2 linked regions of the Homo sapiens genome follow. The protein of the gene in region 2 purifies or fractionates together with the protein of the main gene of each other region. This does not show direct contact. Each region holds a gene or a part of one and is shown on either strand. Other genes may lie near its edges.

Region 1 (5,819 bases), on a different chromosome or scaffold from region 2:
AGCATTCCTAAAGTGCTGGGACAAAGTGTCTCACAAGGGCAAGTGGACCCTAGAGAGATAGCCATCCCTGACCTCTGGGCTCCACATCACCTGACTTGCTGCTCCACCACTTTGCTTGTTTCCTGGGTGCTCCATCCCAGAGACATGTGAGTTAGCAATCACTTAGTGTAATCAGCCCAGGATGGAGGGTCTGTGCTGTGAGCCCAAGCCAGGGTTCCCTGTCTGGTGATGAGTAGTGGAGGGTGTGTGGTACCCGTGGGAGATGGACTGGCTTGTTCTTTGGGTCAACTGCAGCTTATTGGAGGTGTTGATAGGGCACTTAGGGTCTTTGCTCCCTTGCATCTTCTGAGGGTAGCAAGGGCAGTTCCACTGCAGAGGCAGTGGCAGAAAGGATTTCATTTGCTCCTGGAAGCTCTGTCCCAGGAACTGCAGAGTTGCTACTGGCTTGATAGCTCCAGTGGTGGGCTGGCTAGAGACCCAGGCCAGGAGGATCTGCCCATCAAGTAGAGAGCCCGGCCACTTTTCTGTAGGGCTGCTGTGGTATGCTGGGGGTCCCCTCCAGTCCCTAATTGCCTTGTATTTTCCAGGGAAGATGATAGTCTGCCCCTTCCTCTGGAAGCTCTGTACCACTGAGGTACGAACCTGTTGCCAATCTGAACACACCTATAAGATGTGGCTGGAGGCAAGTTGAGAAGTCTTACCTAGTCAGGACGAACAAGAACAGGGACTTGCTTCAAAAAAAAAAGTCTGGCCACGTTTTTATAGAGCAGCTGTGCTGTGCTGGGGGTTCACTTCAGCCCCTGGTCCACCTCAGACACTCTGAAGCCCTAAGGCTGAAATGGCTGGGTCACCCAAACAGCAAAGATGACAATCTGGTCCTCCCCCTGGGAGCTCTGACTCAGGGAGGCCTGAGACCTCTGTCGGCCAGAGAACAGCAGTCAAGGTAGCCAGAGACCCTGGTTGAAAGACTTCACCCGCTGACTAGAAATGTGGTCAGGGACTGACGTAAACAAGAGTCTGGCCACGTTTTTGTAGCGTGGCTGTGCTGTGCTGAGGTACCTCTTCCACCCCTTGTCAGCTTGGGCTCTCCAAAGCCCGCAGGCCAGAATGGCTAGTCACCAAAAGAGCAAAGGTGGGGGCCTGCCCCTCTCCGGGAGCTCTGTCCCAGGAACATTTCACATTTCCATTGGCCAAGGAATGCTGGTGGGGGTAGCTGGAGGCCCCAGTTGGGAGGTCCTGTCCAGTGAGGTGGAACAGGATCAGGGGCCTGCTTACAGAAGCAGTCTGGCCATGATTTGGTAAAGCAGCTATGCTGTGCTGTGGGATCTCTTCTGTCCCTCGTCGGTTTGTACTCTCCAAAGCCCGCAGGCTGGAATGACTAAGTTGCCTGAACGGGAAAGATGGCGGCCTGCCCCGTCTTTTCTCTCAGAGTTTTATCTTGTTTCGTGGAGCTTAATTTTTAGCCTGTTGATTTTACTGTCTACATTAGACTTGTTGAGAAAGAATCTGTTCTCTTTTAGGTGAGATAAATGAGAATTCATTGTCTTCTGTAAATAAACCTGTTCATGTCTTGTTCTCTGGAAAGAAGTCTCTTTCAGCTATCTGACTTTGGTCACAATCATGTAGAGCAGCAGCCAGTCTACAATGACGTAATTGAATTTCCATTTCCAGTGTTTCCTCGTTGTGTCTTACATTGTCCAGTTCAGAACTGAGCATTTTATTCTCAGTTGTCAACATGCTAAGCTGTCCACTGTACTGAAATACTGTGCTTCCTCAATTTTTTTTAAGGTGTGCACTTTTATCCAACTCTCCTCAAGTCAGAGTACAGGTAAGCCCTGGCTGCCTCCAGCCACTCTCAGGGAGACCAAAAGCCTTCATACACCCCAAGTTGGGGTACAAAAGAGGGGGGCCACGAAGGCTGATCATTCAAAATAAAACAAAATTAAAAAGTATTAAGGCGAAGATTCAAAAAATTTTGCATTATGTAATTTGCACAAAAGCAATGCTATCACCTCCCCTGTGTGAACTAGGGAGAGGACTGGGCCATTCTCCTTAGAGAGAAGTGGGATGGCTTTTAGCAGGGCAAGGGGCTTCCTGAAACAATGCGTCTCACAATATTTGGAATGACTATTGAAAAGAAGAACAATGTACAATCAAAGTCCTTGGCAACATTGTAGAACTTTGGAGGAAGCTTCCTCCAACCGACTGCTGTCACCTTCACCATTCCGGTTTTTAAATCCTGAGTCAAGCCAATAAAAAACAAAACAAAAAATGAAACAAGAAAACAAATAAAGCCATGCCAATCTCATGTTGTTTTCTGAGAAGTTTGGTTTTGTCAAGAAAGGGTGTAACGCAACTAAGTCAGAGTCCACCTAGAAGCATTTGCGGTGGACAATGGAGGGGCCTGACTCATCATACTCCTGCTTGCTGATCCACATCTGCTGGAAGGTGGACAGCGAGGCCAGGATGGAGCCACCGACCCACACGGAGTACTTGCGCTTGGGAGGAGCAATGATCCTGATCTTCATCATGCTAGGCGCCAGGGCAGCGATCTCCTTCTGCATTCTGTGGGCCATGCCAGGGTACATGGTGGTGCCGCCAGACAGCACTGTGTTGGTGTACAGGTCTTTGCGGATGTCCACATCAGACTTCATGATGGAGTTGAAGGTAGTTTCATGGATGCCACAGGATTCCATGCCCAGGAAGCAAGGCTGGAAGAGCGCCTCGGGGCAGCGGAACCGCTCGTTGCCGATGGTGATGACCTGGCCATCGGGCAGCTCGTAGCTCTTCTCTAGGGAGGAGCTGGAGGCCGCCGTGGCCATCTCCTGCTCGAAGTCCAGGGCAACATAGCACAGCTTCTCTTTGATGTCACGCACGATTTCCCGCTCGGCCATGGTGGTGAACCTATAGCCACGCTCGGTGAGGATCTTCATGAGGTAGTCAGGCAGTTCCCGCCCAGCCAGGTCTAGGCGCAGGGTGGCATGGGGGAGGGCATTCCCCTCATAGATGGGCACAGTGTGGGTGACCCCGTCACCAGAGTCCATCACGATGCCAGTAGTACGGCCAGAGGTGTACAGGGACGGCACGGCCTGGATGGCCACGTACATGGCTGGGGTGTTGAAGGTCTCAAACATGATCTGGGTCATCTTCTCGCGGTTGGCCTTGGGGTTCAGGGGGGCCTCGGTCAGCAGGATGGGGTGCTCCTCGGGAGCCACACGCAGCTCGTTGTAGAAGGTGTGGTGCCAGATCTTCTCCATGTCATCCCAGTTGGTGATGATGCCGTGTTCCATGGGGTACTTCAGGGTCAGGATGCCTCTCTTGCTCTGGGCCTCCTTGCCCACATAGGACTCTTTCTGATGCATGCCCCCCATCATGCCCTGCTGCCTGGGGCGCCCCACGATGGAAGGGAAGACAGCCCGGGGGGCATCGTCGCCCGCAAAGCCGGCCTTGCACATGCCAGAGCCGTTGTCAATGACGAGCACGGCGGTATCATCATCCATGGTGAGCTCATTCAATTGTAGAGCCTTTAAAAGATTATCATTCTTTTTTTTCACACTTTCAATATCCTCCAAATATTTCTTTTCTCTTAGCTGGCTCTGATGTTTCATTGTGTCTAGCTCCAGTCTTAGCATGGCAATTTCTTCCCGCAACGTACTATTTTCATGCAAGACGTCTTTTTCTTTCTTACAACTAAGAGAAAGCTAAGTAAACAAAGAGAACTTTTAGTTAGCACTCAATAGATTGACATATCATGATTTCTTCTGAAATTCAAAAATAACATGTATTTGTATAATGAAAGAATCCCCATAGTGGATATTTAACTGGAAAAAAATTGGACAAAACTTCAAACCTAATAAGAGTGTAAATTCCTCCAGTGATTTATTTTTCATCGTCTTTAAATAAATATTTAAACTTTTAGGAATCTGCTCCTAAATTCCTAAAAGTTTAAATATTTATTTAAAGACGATGAAAAATAAATCACTAGAGGATTTTTAAGAATCCCAGAATTAAAAAAGCCTTTTTCTGAGTTACAAAAAACCCAGAGGCATAAAATATAAGATTAATAATTTGACTACATTTTTAAGATTAGGTTTACACTCTGATATCTAACCTATCAACCACACCATCCTAAGAGCCTTAGCTATGCATATATTTGGACAGAAGCAATTTCTCAAAGTTCTTTAAGTTTCTTTTACTGAAGAACGTTTTACCGATATTCTACATTTCTAATATTTCTATACTCAGTTATAAGAATTACATTTATTTATAACTGTCAAATCTAAGCACTGTACCCTTCTACACTGTACACATCTGTATCTAGGCATTGCTCTTCTACATATAATACTGAACTCATTTAAGATCGCGATTCTTAAAAGGAGAGGTCAAAAAATATACACAGATGCAGGATTTTCCCCAGGTCTGCTGATGCTACTTCTAGTGATCCTCCACAAAACCACACTTACTTCTGTGGTGTAAATATATAAATACAAAAGAAACCTTTTGTTTCAAAATATGAATGGTAAATAAGATACAACTTATAGAGATCTTCTTAGAAATCATGAGATTATTTGCCATTGCGGTAACTTTTATTTCCTCTTTATAATGTTTGAAACAGTAGTAATGGTGAAATAGGGGAAATATACTGAACTATTTCTCCAGAAACAAAATACTTATCAATAAATTATTACTAAATGTGTATCATGGCATGTCATTGTTTTCAAACCTCTTTACACTGAAATGAGAAACTACTTGGAGCAAACTGTTCCTCTCTGCAAAAGTAAGGATAATGGTATCCACAATGTGGCCTCTGACCCAGCTATACATTTCCTACTTTCTTATCAGTAAAAATAATCAATTGACTTCTCTATTAACATTTTTTAAAAAACTAATGTCCAAAAACGAGAAAATCTGTTTTCAGTAGCAAAACTTATTTCTGATGTGGAAAGATCATCAATTCTTATGAAAAACATCAAATACTTCTCCTTTGGATTGAGGCCATTGTGCAGGTCACTACTCAACTGTTGCAGGCAAATGAAGGTGAATTAAGAACATGGCTTTATCCTATACGTACGTATATAGATATATGACAAAGGATATATAGAATATATACACACATATATATGACTTAAAAATCCTTTATATTTCCAAAATACAGTTCTTTAAAATATACACACATATAAAAACATTTGAAAATAACTAAAGAAAATACCTCAGAATTCATTTTTTCAACCACTTCTATCTGCTTTTCTTCATGAATCAGAATCTCATCGTGTAATATTCCAGTGTTCTGTTCTTCACAAAATTGCTTCTGAGTATCATTTTGTTCGTCACTAGAAGAAATTTTAATTTTCATGAAATACTGGAGCTGTCCCTAAAATGATGTACAGGGCAAGATGGCGCCATCAGATGTCATTCACACAATGCATATCTGCACATTATTCCAAGACAAGGCAAAGGGGTCTCACATCTGTTAACCAGGTGTCCCCAACCATGCTGGCACCAGGGACTGGTTTTGTGGAAGATAATGTTTACAGGAACCTGAGGTGGGGGATGGTTCCAGGATGATTCAAGTATATTACATTCATTGTGCACTTTATTTCTATTATTATTAATATATAATGAAATAATTATATCTCACCAAAATGTAGAATCAGTGGGAGCCCTGAGCTTGTTTTCCTGCAACTAGATGGTCCCATTTGGGGGTGACGGAAGATGGTGACAGATCAGAAAGGCATTCGATTCTCATAAGGAGTGAACAACCTATATCCCCCTGCATGAGCAACTTACAACAGGGTTCAGGTCACACTCAGGACAATCTA
Region 2 (9,466 bases):
ATAAGCATATCAAAGAGATATCTGCATCCCCATATTTATTGCATCACTATTCACAATAGCCAAGATATGGAATCAACCTAGGTGTCTAACAATAGATGAATGGATGAAGAAAATGTGGCATATATGGACAATGGAATACTATTTAGCCAGAAAAAAAGAATAAAATCAGCCAGGTGCAGTAGCTCGTGCCTGTAATCCCAGCACTTTGGGAGACCGAGGTGGGCGGATAACAAGGTCAAGAGATTGAGACTATCCTGGCCAACATGGTGAAACCCTGTCTCTACTAAAAATACAAAAATTAGCTGGGCGTGGTGGCACACACCTGTAGTCCCAGCTACTCGGGAGGCTGAGCCAGGAGAATCGCTTGAACCGATGAGGCAGAGGTTGCAGTGAGCAGGCAACCTACAGAATGGGAGAAAATTTTTACAATCTACCCATCTGACAAAGGGCTAATATCCAGAATCTACAAAGAACTTAAACAAATTTACAAGAAAAAATCAAATAACCCCATCAAAAAGTGGGCAAAGGATATGAACACACACTTCTCAAAAGAAGACATTTATGCAGCCAACAGACACATGAAAAAATGCTCATCATCACTGGCCATCAGAGAAATGCAAATCAAAACCACAATGAGATACTATCTTGCACCAGTTAGAATGGCGATCATTAAAAAGTCAGGAAACAACAGGTGCTGGAGAGGCTGTGGAGAAATAGGAACGTTTTTACACTGTTGGTGGGACTGTAAACTAGTTCAACCATTGTGGGAGACAGTGTGGTGATTCCTCAAGGATCTAGAACTAGAAATACCATTTGACCCAGCCATCCCATTACTGGGCATATACCTAAAGGATTATAAATCATGCTGCTCTAAAGACACATGCACACGTATGTTTATTGTGGCACTATTCACAATAGCAAAGACTTGGAACCAACCCAAATGTCCATCAATGATAGACTGGATTAAGAAAATGTGGCACATATACACTATGGAATACTTTGCAGCCATAAAAAAGGATGAGTTCATGTCCTTTGTAGGGACATGGATGAGGCTGGAAACCATCATTCTGAGCAAACTATCACAAGGACAGAAAACCAAACACTGCATGTTCTCACTCACAGGTGGGAATTGAACAATGAGATCACCTAGACACAGGGTGGGGAACATCACACACTGGGACCTGTTATGGAGTGGGGGGAAGGGGGAAGGATAACATTAGGAGAAATACTTAATGTAAATGACAAGTTAATGGGTGCAGCACACCAACATGGCACATGTATACATATGTAACAAACCTGCAAGTTGTGCACATGTACCCTAGAACTTAAAGTATAATAAAAAAAATCAAGTCAAATCAAATCCTGTCATTCTCAGCAACACATATGTAACTGGGGAACATTATGTTATGTGAAATAAGCCAAGAAAAGAAGGTTAAACAACGCATGTTCTCACATGCAGAAGCTTTAAAAACTTGATCTTATAGAAGTAAAAAGGAGAGAAGAGGATACTAAAGGGTAGGACGAGTTTGGGGAAGGAGGGGATAGGAAGATATTTGTTAAAGGATAGAAAATTACAGCTAGATAGCAGGAATAAATTCTCATGTTCTATACCACTATAGGATGACTATAACAATAATATAGTTTCAGATAGCTAGAAGGAAGGTATTGAATATTCCCAACACAAAGAGATGATAAATATTTGAGATGAAGTATATGTTAATTACCCTGATCTGAACACTATACATTATACATATACACTATGCCTATGTATACACATGCACTATATATATACACTATATGTCAAAATATCACTATGTACCCCATAAATATGTACAGTTATTATATATCAATTTTTACAAACCTCACCAGGGTCCTACAAATTTAGGTACTGTTATTGTTCTCATTTTACATTTGAGGAATCTGAGGCACAGATAAATTTATAAACTGGCCCAGTGTTGCATACCTAATAAGAGGTAGTGCACTGATTCAAATCCAGGCAGTCTATCTCTGCAGCCCACACTGTTAGCCACTAGTATGTCAGAAATTCAAAACTTCAAAGTCAATGTCTAACCAACCCAGGAGCAGTGAACACCACCAGATGCCTGATCAAGGTCTTGAAATACCATCTCCCATTAAAAAGAGCCAGGTTCCTTGGAGAAATGGCTGATTTAAGGTCTGGGTCAGGAAATGAACAAGAGAAACCTGAAGCACCTTGTCATATAGATAACAAGCTATTGAAGACTAATAGGATCATTCCAAAAGAAGAGGACTCTCAAGAGCCAACTTAAAGAGGCTCCCAATGGCCAAAGATGTGACAGTTTGAATATCAGTAGGGATAACAATAGCAATAGATTGAAGCACATCAAACATGTTTAAATCTATGAGTTCATAATGATGCTCAAAAATTGGTCATGTTTAAGAGATAATTGGGATGTTAAGTTGAAAACTGGTAAATAAATTTTTTTCCTGACATTCCTATGTGAACTGTATACCTGAATAACTACATAGTACATGATATGAAGTTCCTCTTTATAGGAATAATCCAGCTGCTAAATGACAAAGGAATGATAGAATTAGAGTGTCCCTTTTTTACAACCTCTAAAGTTGTGGTATGATCATAGCTGACTGCAGCCTCAAACTCTTGGCCTCAAGCAATCCTCCCTCTTCTTCAGCCTCCCAAAGTGATGTGGTTACAGGCATGAGCCACTGTGCCCAACGTTTGTACTTAATTTTTTAAAAACTCTAAAAGAAATTGCAATTATGAGAAAATTGATAATTTGAACAATGACTCAATGTTTGATGATGTTAAGGAAATATTGTTAATATTTTAGATGTGATAATAATATGGTTTTTTAAGTCTTTATTTTTATTGGTGAAATTATATGCTCTGGGATTTGCTTCAAAATACTATGCAATGGGGTTGGGGGTAGAGATGAAACAGAATTGGCCCTGAGTTGATAATTATTGGAGTTGGGGGATGGATACATGGAAGTTCACCACTATTCTTTCTACTATTGCATAGTTTAAAATTACCATAATGAAATGTTTTGTAAAATTAAATGCCTAATTTTTGGGTTGCACAAAATACATACTGTTTCTAATAAAAATACATAAGTAATTTGGTCCAAAATACTTTAGATATTAAGATGTAATGAATTTATTCTACTACCCATGTCTTTAATATATGTCCTTTCTGTTGAGAGAGAGGAGAGGAGAGGGGAGGGGAGGGGACGGGAGGGGAGGCAGAGAGAGAGAGATGTGTTTATTGCATAGAAAATGCTAGTAAAGTCAGTGGGTACTAATATCACTTGATCTTAGCCAAAAGGCTGAGAAGCGATAATGGCTACTAATATCAAGCCAGTTCTTAATGGTGCCAGGCAATAGTACTACATTTCCTTAATCTATTCACTTGCTCACATTCATAAATCATACTTTATCGAATCTCAGATGCCATTGATTATAAGTTGTATTATTATTTTATATACTAATAAAAAACAATGCTCCTGATTAAACTATGGAATGCCATCACTTGTAAGACAGCAATTTCACAGATGTTAAAATATGAAAAAATCATGTTTCAAAATCATCATAATACGGTATTCATCTTTTCTGTCAAGTCTAAAATACTTTCCCCCTATCTTCATTTCAGCTTCCTATTTCACTGGGAAAATAGAAGCACTCAGAACAGGGCATCCTCTTTCTCCTACCACCATATTTGTCCACCTGTTTGGATCTGTACTTATAAACTCTGCCTCCCCTTTTATTTCAATGGAGATGAATTATCCATACTCTTACTTAGAATGATCCCTGTGATTGTGTACTGGATTCCATCCCTTCTCTTCTCAAGGACATTCCTCCGAGTAACTAGCCTGTCTATCCTGAATTGTGTATTTCCCGCCTCTACTGGATCTTTTGTTTTATTTTATTAACTAATTCATTTATTTGAGACAGAGCCTCGCTCTGTCGCCCAGGCTGGAGTGCAGTGGTGTGATCTCGGCTCACTGCAACCTCTGCCTCCCGGGTTCAAGTGATTCTCCCGCCTCAGCCTCCCAGGTAGCTGGGTTTACAGGCGTCTGCCACCACGCCCGGCTAATTTTTGTATTTTTAGTAGAGACGGGGTTTCACCACGTTGGCCAGGCTGGTCTCCAACTCCTGACCTCAGGTGATCTGCCCACCTAAGCTTCCCAAAGTGCTGGGATTACAGGCGTGAGCCACTGCGCCCAGCCTAGATCCTTTTAATTAGTACATAAACTTACTATAATTTCTTCCATCTTTTTTATTTTATTTTTTTGAGACAGAGACTAGCTCTGTCGCCCATGCTGCAGTGCAGTGGCGGGATCACGGCTCACTGCAGTCTCTACTGTCTGGGCTCAAGCGATCCTCCCATCTCAGCCTCTCAAGTAGTTGGGACTTCAGGCGGGTGCCATGCCAGGCTAGTTTTTTATTTTTTGTAGAGATGAGGGTCTCACTATGTTGCCTAGGCAGTTTCAGACTCCTGGGCTCAACCAATCCTCCCACTTTGGCCTCCTGAAATGTTAGGATTACAGGCATAAGCCACCACACTCAGCCCCATCTTTGAATTAAAAAAAAAAAAAAAATTAGAACGTGGAAAAACGCAACAACAAAAGATTAACAAAATCCCTATCCCATGATAGCCTTATTTTTCTGCTCACCTTAAAAACAAAACTTCTTAAAAGTATTGCGTATATTTGCTTTCTCCATTTCCTCTCCTCCCATCCTTCCCTCCAACTCCTATCAAATTTTCATCAGACTTTATCAAACTTCCACCACTGCCAAAATGGCGTTTCAACATCACTGGTGACCATTGCTACAGTGGCCCATTCTTAATTCTCATTTTACTTGACCTATGAGCAACATTTGAGACAATGGGTCACTCCCTTCTTGAAACACTTCCTTCCCTTGGTTTTGCAGATCTAAACTCTCCTACTTTTCCATCTACTTCATGGATTATTCCTTCTCAGTCTTCTTTGTTGGATCCTCTTCACCTCTCCGACTTAACCTGGTGCATTGCTAGAAGAAACCCTGCTGAGTAAGAGCAAATTGTTTTTAGCATACCGCCGATTTTACTTTCCAGTATTTAAAAATGCTGTGTATCCTTTTAAATGAAAACGACTTAAAAAGCGTGGCTCTCAGGCTAGCAATAGAGATACCAACCCGGGAATCTCCGCACCACCCCCCAAGAGGAAGCAGCGTCTGACGTCTTCCGGAAACGAGCTCCACTGGCCTTATGGGAAATGTGGTCTCCGACGGATGGCCTACACCCGGGAGGAGTCCAGGAACTCTAGGTGGACAGTTACTTCCGCACACGCGTAGTAGGACGGTAGCCGGTATTCAATCTTCAAATCAGCGCCGCGGGAAGTGCGGGCGGGTGTTGCTCCCCTGTCTCTGGACGACGCTGTGACTGATCCCAGGCTTGGAGCCGGAGCTGCGAGCGAGGCAGTGAAAGGGTGGCAGGTATGGCTTTGCTGGACTCGGAGGACGTAAGAGAAAGGCGGGGACTGGCTTCTAGGTTTACCCTACCGAAGATAAAACTTTAGTCTCCAAGCGCAGTGACTTCAGGTTTGGATATGTGGGTCCTGTTCAACTCGAGTAGCTGAGAGAAAGCAAGAGTTGGGCTCCGACTGGCACTGGGTAGATGTCCAGGGCTCTGGTGGGACTGGGAGAGGCTCAATTTGCATTCCTGCTCTTGTAGGTCAAGGTCACTATGTAGGAGTCTGTTCATCTAACTGTACCTTTCCTGGTTCCAAGAGCATAGTTGGCCCGACTGGAGCCTGCGACAATTTTAAGCCGTGTCAAGGGATCCAGTGGAAACTGTAAGCTATTTCAAGGGATCCAGGAAGAAAGCATTCTTGAGAAACTGCTATGGATTAGAAGGGTATTCTCAGCAATCATTTGAAGTAAATGCTATTACCATTTTGCATATGAGTTAACTGAAGCTGAAAGGTGAAATTACTTGCCTGGACTCACACAGCTTAGTAAGTGGAAGAACTGAGATTCAAACTCAGATACATTTTCTCCAAATTTCTTTTTTTTTTTTTTTACAGTATAGCATTCCTGCATAAAACAGAGTTGGGTTTATTCTCCTGAAATGTTTGAGCAATGAATGCTGAGTAAATTTCGATTTGTAGTCATTTTGTAGAGTCTCTTGGTGTATCTGCAGATCTTCCAGTGCAGACTGTGTAAATGAAGATGTGAGTCCCCGGTTTGCCCATTATACCCTTTCTAGAGCCCCAGCAGTTCTAAGCTCATAGGAGATGGCGAGTTTCTACAGAGAGAAACATTTGGAGTTTAAACTGAAGGATCCAGCTTAACAAAAAAAAAATAAAAAAAAGTGTTCCTGGGTCCCTGAATCCAGCCTTCTCAAGAAAGCCCAACCTAATTTGCAATCTCTTATCCCAGCGTCAGAGTAGAAACCAGAGAATCACAGGAAGGAATCATTTTTAGACTTACGGAGCTTCAGAGACCAAGCTTTTAAGTGAGTCAACTCATTCATTATTTCTTCAGGATAAATTTCTGGGAGGAAAAAAAATAACTGTTTCAAGAGGAACCACTTGGTGCTAGATCAGTAGGACAGAAACATATAACATCCTTATCTAAGCTCCATATATTCCTAACAATCACAAGTAGAGATCTGTGCTTATGGAACATGGACTTTTCTGTCTTGCTAGAAATGTCATTCTCCCCCACTAGGTGGCATTTTCTGAGGCTGCAGTGTGGGTACTTATGGTCTGATAGAGCAGGGTTCTACTTTGCATGCAGTCCTGGTATCTCAGGTCTTTCTATTCTCTTCCCCATTTCTACTTTCATAGATTTCTGTGTAAGAGCTGCAGAAAATGATCAGCTTCCAGGTAAGGTATCCATCTATTCATCCAGTTGTTTAAATCTCCCAAAAATCCATATGATAAAAAGGAAATGTATGGTCAGGAAAAATGTAAACCAAATAAAAGATCAAGTCTAAAAGGAAATTTAGAAGATTGGTAAGTTGATATTCAAGTCATAGGGTTTGCAGATGGTTGGAACAAATTTGAGCTGCAAATGTGTACTCAGTCTTCCTGGAAATCATAGTAAATGGATAACCAGCCAGTTAAAAAGTATTGGCATTGCTGTGAAGATAAAGCAAAATTATTCTCCTTGTAAGTAAAGTTTTTCCTGACACAGTTCTTTGAAGAAAATCTTTTCTAATGAGTTTTCACATAGATAACATTAGAAATAACATTCACAGCAGCAGCCTGCGATAAATACAGCATCAGGTTTCCTATGACTTTCTTAGAGTATTCCCTAGAGTAAGAACATAGTGCCAAGCAGCACTAAATGAACTCAATTTATAAGTCCAGGTATGTGGCCTTTTTAATGCCCACCTGGATCCATAAGTAAATCTTGTACCTTTTCCAGTCTCTAGCTATCCTGAGCATTTACTCTTCTACATGAATTTTAAGGTCATCAAAATAACAAATATTGTCAAGGTTCATAAAGCAGTATGTTAGGTATTCTTTTTTTTTTTTTTTTTTTTGAGACAGTCTTGCTCTGTTGCCTAGGCTGGAGTACAATGGCGTGATCTCAGCTCACTGCAACCTCTACCTCCCAGGTTCAAGCGATTCTCCTGCCTCAACCTCCCAAGTAGCTTGGATTACAGGCATGTGCCACCACGCCCAGCTAATTTTTGTGTTTTTAGTAGAGACGGGGTTTCACCTTGTTGACCAGGCTGGTCTCGAATTCCTGACCTCAAGTGATCTGCCTGCCTCAGCCTTCCAAAGTGCTGGTAGGATTACAGTTGTGAACCACTGCGCCCGGCCAGATATTCTTATTAGGATTGCATTAAACTTAATAGGTTAATTTGGAGAGAATTCATGACTTTTCAATGAGTCCTATTTATTCAGGTTTTCTTATAGGTCTTTTATTATAATTTTTTTTTTTTTTTTTTTTTTGAGACAGAGTTTCACTCTGTTACCCAGGCTGGAGTGCAGTGGCACAATCTTGGCTTACTGCAACCTCCATCTCCTGAGTTCAAGTGATTCTCCTGCCTCAGCTTCCTGAGTAGGTGGGATTACAGGTGCCCGCCACCACGCCCGGCTAATTTTTGTATTTTTAGTAGAGACAGGGTTTCACCATGTTGGTCAGGCTGGTCTCGAACTCCTGACCTCAGGTGATCCACCCATCTCAGCCTCCCAAAGTGCTGGGATTATAGGCATGAGCCACCGCACCCGGCCCTTTTATTATAATTTTATAGGTTTTATAAGTTTCTTATTGTAATTCCTGTACATTTCTTATATTTATTCTTACATATGGTTTTAGTTGCTATTGAGAATGAGGTAGGCCTTTTTTTCATTATCTCTTCTAATTGGCTATTTTGGTAAATAGAAAAATATGGACTTCTCTTGGCTGGGCATGGTGGTTCATGCCTATATTCCCAGCACTTTGGGAGGCTAAGGTGGGAGGATTGCTTGAGGCCAGGAGTTCAAGACCAGCCTGGGCAATATAGCAAGACCCCATCTCTAGAAAAAAAAAATTAATTAGCATGGCATGATGGCACACACCTGTAGTTCCAGCTACTAGGTAGGCTAGGGCAGGAGGATCTGTTGAGCCTAGAAGATCAAGGCTATAGCTAGCTATGGTCACAGCACTGCACTCTAGCCTGGGTGACCCTGTCTCTGAAGAAAAGAAAAGATGGATTTCTCTATGTTGAATTTATATCCAGCCAATGTACAGAACTCTTGTTAGATCTAAGAGTTCTTTAGTTGATTCTTCTATTTCTTAGGTAGACAATCATACATTCCAAATGGAGTTTTATCTCTTCCTGCCCAATATTTATACCTTCCCCCATATTTTCCTTGTCTCATTGCAATGGCCAGGACTTCTAGTCACTGCAGTTTTGAATAAACAGCCATCCTGTGGTATCCATGGGAGACTGGTTGCAGAACTCCTGCAGATCCCCAAATCTGAACATAATGAAGTCCCACAGTACAGTTGGCCCTGTGGAACTTAAGGATAGGAAAAGTTGGCCATCCATATTCATGGGTTTTGCATGGCAAGAATACTGTATTTTTTTTTATCTGCATTTGGTTGTAGATGCAGAACCTGCCAACCAAGGGCCAACTATATTCATTGCAAAAAAATCTGAGTATAAGTGGAACCAGGCAGTTCAAACCTGTGTTGTTCAGGGATTAACTGTAATTGCTAGCCAGAAGTCTTTTTTGTCCTAATTTTAATGGGAGTGCTCCCAGTGTTTCACCGTTTCCTCTTGTATTCTAGTAGATAGTTGTTTTTTTTTTATTTTGTTTTTAATCAAGTTAAGGATTTTTAACTTGCAAAGATTATTTTAATAACTAGGGACTTTTGGCCTCATACCCTTTTTTAAAATAGCTGTCAGTAATATAATATATCTTGCCACCCTTAATATACCAGTTTAGAGAATTTTCAGTGCATTTCCCAGTACTGAACTATCTAT

Evidence for each region. The genes of interacting proteins can lie anywhere in the genome.
Region 1: the proteins of ZNF684 (region 2) and POTEE purify together in Homo sapiens (affinity purification with mass spectrometry; 2 studies listed by BioGRID and IntAct, with this or other methods). This does not show direct contact.

What each region holds. Positions count from the first base shown.
Region 1 is NC_000002.12:131,261,237-131,267,055, reverse strand, and holds the end of POTEE (POTE ankyrin domain family member E), read right to left. Parts: intron 5,331-5,819; coding exon 5,210-5,330; intron 3,702-5,209; coding exon 2,373-3,701; 3' UTR 1,778-2,372; downstream 1-1,777.
Region 2 is NC_000001.11:40,526,313-40,535,778, forward strand, and holds the start of ZNF684 (zinc finger protein 684), read left to right. Parts: upstream 1-5,324; 5' UTR 5,325-5,475; intron 5,476-6,830; 5' UTR 6,831-6,854; coding exon 6,855-6,869; intron 6,870-9,466. UniProt on the Homo sapiens protein: May be involved in transcriptional regulation.